Linked DNA regions of Homo sapiens. The protein of the gene in region 1 purifies or fractionates together with the protein of each later gene. This does not show direct contact. Each region holds a gene or a part of one and is shown on either strand. Other genes may lie near its edges.

Evidence for each region. Proteins that work in one complex are often made in the same cells at the same time.
Region 2: the proteins of PPP1R12A (region 1) and EML4 fractionate together in Homo sapiens (co-fractionation; one large-scale study listed by BioGRID). This does not show direct contact.

The regions. Positions count from the first base shown.
Region 1 is NC_000012.12:79,773,035-79,775,709, forward strand, and holds the end of PPP1R12A (protein phosphatase 1 regulatory subunit 12A), read right to left. Parts: 3' UTR 534-2,675; downstream 1-533. UniProt on the Homo sapiens protein: Key regulator of protein phosphatase 1C (PPP1C). Mediates binding to myosin. As part of the PPP1C complex, involved in dephosphorylation of PLK1. Capable of inhibiting HIF1AN-dependent suppression of HIF1A activity.
Region 2 is NC_000002.12:42,298,228-42,301,887, reverse strand, and holds part of EML4 (echinoderm microtubule-associated protein-like 4), read right to left. Parts: intron 648-3,660; coding exon 496-647; intron 1-495. UniProt on the Homo sapiens protein: Essential for the formation and stability of microtubules (MTs). Required for the organization of the mitotic spindle and for the proper attachment of kinetochores to MTs. Promotes the recruitment of NUDC to the mitotic spindle for mitotic progression.

The DNA.
Region 1 (2,675 bases):
TCTCACTCTGTTGCCCAGGCTGAAGTGCAGTGGCACAATCTTGGCTCACTACAACCTCTGCCTCCCTGGTTCAAGTGATTCTCCTGTCTCAGCCTCCTGAGTAGCTGGGACTACAGGCGATTGCACCATCATACCTGGCTCATTTTTTATTTTTAGTAGAAACGGGGTTTCGCCCTGTTGGCCAGGCTGGTCTCAAACCCCTGACCTCAGGTGATCCTCCCGCCTGGGCCTCCCAACCATGCCTGGCTAAAAGTGCCTCTTATTTATAGATGTGTTAGCAGGTCGAACCTTGGACAAATCTAAATTGGAAAATGATCTAATATTAAAGTAAACTGTATGTTTCAATGGAATATTACCTTTATATGTATCGCTAAGCCTATGTTTGCAGATAAGAAAAAGCACAGGTTTACTTTAAGAAAAAAAAAAAAAACAATGTTTATGGAAGCGAAATCTTGTGCTACAAAGCAACTACCCTGAAACTCACTGTTATTAATTTTTACCCACTTATTATCATAAAAAAACTAGTTCTCAGATTCTGCATACAGACAGCTTTATGTAAAATATATAAACATTTGTCCAAATTGGTACACAGATTGCATAAATATGGCAATTAAGATTGCATTTACAGATGTGCATGTACAATGCTGTGCAAATTATCACAATATTACAATTTCAGAAATTATTCAAATTGGTATCCAAGTAAAGCAATTAGTGAAAAAATACCCATGCAGAATTTAAATATCTCAGAACAAAATTTAAAATGTCTTCATTAAAAGTTCACACATTTAAAATAGTTTTATTCATTTTATTTGTATATGTCAAAATACATTTTTATTTCCAAAATAGTGGGTTTTGCAACTAGTTTCATGCAGAAACAAGGTCTGCTCAATACTACCAATAAAATCAATATAGCACAGTAGCTGTTCAGTTTTAGATACAAAGAATAAATAACCTAAATACAAAACACTAAAATATTAGAAACATGTATTTAATCATTCTTCACAGGCATCCAAACTTCACAAATATAAACCATAGCATGCCTAACTGTTGTGCAACCAGAACATGTTGCAGTCACTCAAACTGATCAGTTATCTGTATATTTTACCTCCACATAAGACCATGGAAATTCTCAATATTCAGACCTACCATTCATACAGTTCAAATATAACCAAAAATAAAACTCCCACAACTATCCTTGTACCTTTAAAATCAAGAATCCTGAGCTTGGTAGTAAGAGCATAACCTTATATCTTCATAAAACCAATCGAGAGAGAGAGGACTTAAAATCCTGCTTACCAAAACACCCTTCCCCAACCCCAAAGTAATCTAAAATAGGCAGTAGAACACAATGACCTTTTAAAATGAAGGGGTACAAATTCACATTTAATATAGTATACAATACAATCAATAATACAATCAGCTACTATAAGCTTTACAATGTACAATTTATTCAAATGGCTGAACTGTTCAGTGGTTAAGGAGACAGTTATGTGCCAGAAAGATGTAGTATTTTTTGCATGGTTTAATGAAAATATAAAAGCTATTTGTCCAAATAAAAGCCATCGTCACTATGTACTTGGTTTTGCGCTTTTTTTTCCTTAAAAAAAAAAAAAGGCCACTGAAATGTATAAAATGGTCTGAACATGATGGTGGTATCAAAGTCGATGCCTCTTCACATGGCAATAACAGTGCATTTAACATTAACTCACGGGTTAATTCTGCAAATGATTTCATAGCATTACTTTGGCTAGCACAACAGTTTTAGACAGCACTCAGATAAATATAGGTATGTGAAATGTAAAGCAATTATCTTATGCAACTTTAATTATGGTTGAGTACTATCAAGTGAAAACTGAAAATAAAAGCACTTTACAGTAGGAAACTTTTGTAAAGATAGGGCTCCACATAATGTGTAACTTTTAAAGTCTTTATATCACATTGTTAGCAAATTTTGTTTTTTAACACTATCATGGAGTAGCCTACTCTGCATTAGCAGACATTTGAAATAAGAAATAGTCAAGCATGCCATGTGGTGGTCTAAAAATCAAAACAATACACTTATTTGTATATACAGCATCACTCAGTACCTGCTAAAATGAATGTGAAGATTACAGAATCTAACATCTTATACTACAATAAAAAAAAAGTGACCAATGAAGCAGAAAATAGGAATTAAAAGATCTAACCTCAAATGACTTTAAAGCATTCATATAAGAAATAAATGCATATTGCACAAACAGTGAAAGCATATGTTCCACCAAGCAATTCAGTTCCAGGTGGGAGACAACACAGCATTAGCCTAATACATGACAATAATCACAGAAGAGCAAGTGTTCTTTTCTGTAATGAAAAAGCTGTGAAAACATAGAAGACTCTGCCACATGAAGAGTTTAGAAGGAAAAAATACAAACCCAAACTTAGATGAAAAGCCAAAAAATTTAAATATCGAAAAACTCGAAACTGTGGCACATCAAAAAATGTTGAGTAACTGTCTTCTGTGAGAGCTGAAAGTTTTTGTTGACACAAAAGTATTTATGTACAACTAAGGCTTACTGGTTAAATATCTGAGGCATATCTGGCCTTGAACACTTTCCTTATATGCTGGAGCTGTAAACAAGTTTTCTCAGTCATTAAAAAAAAATCTTCTCAGCAGCTGCATTAACATGAAACAATGG
Region 2 (3,660 bases), on another chromosome or scaffold:
ATCTGTGAAGAAAACAGTGATGGAAGTTGCATTTTCAGTATGAACTGAAGGTTGTGATTAAGCAACTCTTTATTATCTATCTTCCTGGAAATAAAATCCAAGAGCAGTACTATCAGGATCCTCTTTTTAAGAGGATTTTCCAGAAGATTTTCTCTGGAAAGAATGCTACACGTAGAAAAAAAAACACTAAGCATAAATCCAAAATATAAATCACCAAAAAAGAGAAGAAAAATTAAACTTTGTGACATTTGCTCTGGTTTTAACAGGCAAATTATTCTGCCTAATCTTTAAAAATAGTCTTTCAAATTATTTTAATGGTCTTTTTTTTTTGAAAAAAGTTATCTTAAAGGCAACAACAAACTCCTTTCTTGAGGAAAGGAAATGAAATTATAAGAATTTAATAAGTTTGCCAGAAAAGTATAAGTTATCTTAATGTGGGACAAAATACCTGAGTTTAGAGTATTTAATATTTTTATATTCCGTTTCCATCCTTACCTCTATTTCTCTTTCAGGATTCAGATCATGATCCCACAGAATTATTTTTCTGTCTTTCCCTCCTCCAGTTAATAACATCCCATTTCTCATCTGACAAAGTGTGAACACACTGCCATCATGAGCTTTGATTTGTTTGCTGATTTGATATACACCTAATATGAGGGAAAAATAAAAACACTAGTGATAATACTTTTCTTCAGATTTTAGTGTCTATTTGGAAGAAAACTTCAGTAGAACTAGAGTTAATAATCAGAAAGTTCATATGACTCAATCAAAAACCTATTTTCAGCAAGTCTTTTGTGCAAAGCAGGTAGTAAAGTTTAGGGTATAATACAATCTTTTGCATTTCTGTCAATATTTATTTACTCTGAAAATATTTCAAAATATTTTCCTACAAAAAACCAAAGCAAAAGTAGTGATAATTCCACAGACGAAAGGGGATATAGTATAGGTTTCAGAACTTTACTATCTCTCATAATCATCTTGTATGGTAGCTAGGGTAGGTGTCACTCTTCTGATATGAGAGCTCAAGACACAAGAGGTACAGGAGCAGCTTAGGGGATACCACATAGTTAGCTAATAACAAAGCTGTGACTAGGCTCAAGTCTCCCACCTTGATGTTCCTTTAACTTTGCAAAAACATCTTTGGTTGACCTTCTGAGGTAACAGTCACAACGTTTAACGTTTTACAACCATTGTTAACCCAGAGGCCTTCTGCTGTGCCAAGGATTACTCCCCTTTATTTGCTGAGATATGGGGGCACTACAGAAGTTATTGGGACAAAGGTAGGCAATGGATACCTGCAGTGATGGCTTTTGACCTACTAGCAGAGAATAATTTCAGTATTTTAAAAATTGATTCAGCTGTACCAATGTGATGGCTAAATAACAGCCCAGTTTTCTTGTATACCCATAGCACACTTTGTTAAGTACCCAGGGAGAGACCAAGGGGGTACATAAAAGGTCTTTTAGGCAAACACATGTGGTTTTTTAAATTATATTTTGCCCCCTTTTAAGGGTGAGAATAAGATGATAGTACTCATACCTTTTTCTTTGGTATTCATAAATGCCTTACTCAGAGAAGCTCTTTAGCTAGATAGGCTAGCAGAGCAAGAGTAAAGCTTTTTGGAAGATGATGTCCTACAGAATTAGTTACCAGGTTCAAAATGGGAAGGTAGAACCTTATTGAAATATGGCCAAAGTAAGTCAATAAACAGCCCTTAGTCCTCTTGAAAAAATTCAGGTTTAACAACTATTCATTTTCTAAAACTGTTCCTCAACTGATGAATAGATTTTAAAAACACAGTATGTCTATACAATGTGATATTACTCAGCCATAAAAAGGAATGAGGTATTGACACATGCTACCACCACATGGATGAATCTTAAAAACATAATGCTAAGTGAAGGCTGGGCACTGTGGCTCACACCTGTAATCCCAGCACTTTGGGAGGCCGAGGTGGGTGGATCACCTGAGGTCAGATGTTTGAAACCAACCTGGCCAACATGGCAAAACCCTCTCTACTAAAAACACAAAATTAGCCGGGCATGATGGCACATGCCTGTAATCCCAGCTACTTGGGAGGCTGAGGCAGGAGAATCGCTTGAACCTGGGAGGCGGAGGTTCAGTGAGCCGAAATCGCACCACTGCACTCCAGCCTGGGCAACAAGAGTGAAACTCCATCTCAAAAAACAAACAAACAAAACAAAACAAAAAAAACTAAGTGAAAGAAGCAAGTCATAAAAGACCACACATTGTATGACTCCATTTATATGAAATGTCATCAACAAGTAAATCTATAGAGACCTAAAGGAAATTGGTGGTTACCTAGGGGCTGAGGGGAGGGAGAAATAGAAAGTGACTACTAATGGGTACAGGCTTTCTTTTTGGGGTGATGAAAATGTCCTTAGGTCAGATAGTGGTGATGGCTGCACAACCTTGTAAATATACTAAAAACCACTGAACTTAAAGGCATACTTCAACAGGGTAGATTTCATGGTATGTGAATTATATATCGAAGTTGTTACTGAGATTGTTCTTTTTTACTCATCTATTTGAGCTGCTATTATACTTAACAAATTGACTAAAATTTCTAAGGCTTTGGTATCCTAAAAAAAATTATGTCTCAGTTTGAGTATGCTAGTGGTACAAATACTTAACAGATGGGTATATATGGCAGGGAGACAGGAAAGGGCTTGCTTGATTTGGAGGAGAACTTGCCCAATTCAGCAGAGCTGGAAGTAGAACTCCAACAAACTTGCTGTTCAGGTCAACTGTCTCCACTTACATCAATATTTATCATCTAAAAATACCTTAAAAATTGAACAACACAACTGTGTTCACTGGCATAGGTAGATAAGTATCTATCTCTGTTCTGATGTTACCACGAGAGGGAGGACACCTGAGAGATGAGAATTTTCTGAGAGTACTACTGGCTTTATTTGGATAATAAAAATAGAGAAAAGCAAATTCTAGGCTTATTTCCCTGTGCATGGTCAAACTAACAAGAGTAGCCTGAAGGTATCATGTAAGAAAACACAAAAAGCAAAGGTGTGGGAGTTTCATAGTTCTCTATCAGAATGTAAGAAAATAAAGCTTTTCTATGCTTAAGTCTGCTTTCCGTATTTCTAAACATGACAAAAACCTTGTTAAACACTTAAAATCCTCCCAGAATGATGGAAAACTGGAAAAAAAAATGAAGAAAAAAATGCTTCATCAGAAATAAAAATACTCTATATAGTGATCAAGTCAGTGAGTCCTTCTCACTCCAGGAAAGTTATTTCCTGAGGTGGACCTAGTATCGACTTAGCTTAAAAAATTTAGTGTTTCTAATTTAAACAAATTATCAAAGTTTCCTTTATATAGTATTTACCTGTAAAACAAATTTATAGCCAAAGATGTCTTTCTTATGGGCCTGTATTTCTGATATTTCAGTTGCCAAATAATGTTTGAAATCCCTGCCAAGGAAAATAATTATCCTTGAATTAAAAAAACCTACTCTGCCTTCAGGCTTACTCATATGGTCAAGTCCATCCAAACTTAATCACAAACCTCACCCTTTCTTCTCATCTCTAACAGACACAAAGCTTCCATAAAAAGCAAGTTTACACTGCCTGCCAAATAAAGATGTTTGGAAGGCTTTCTGTGCCTGTTTAAAGAATAAAA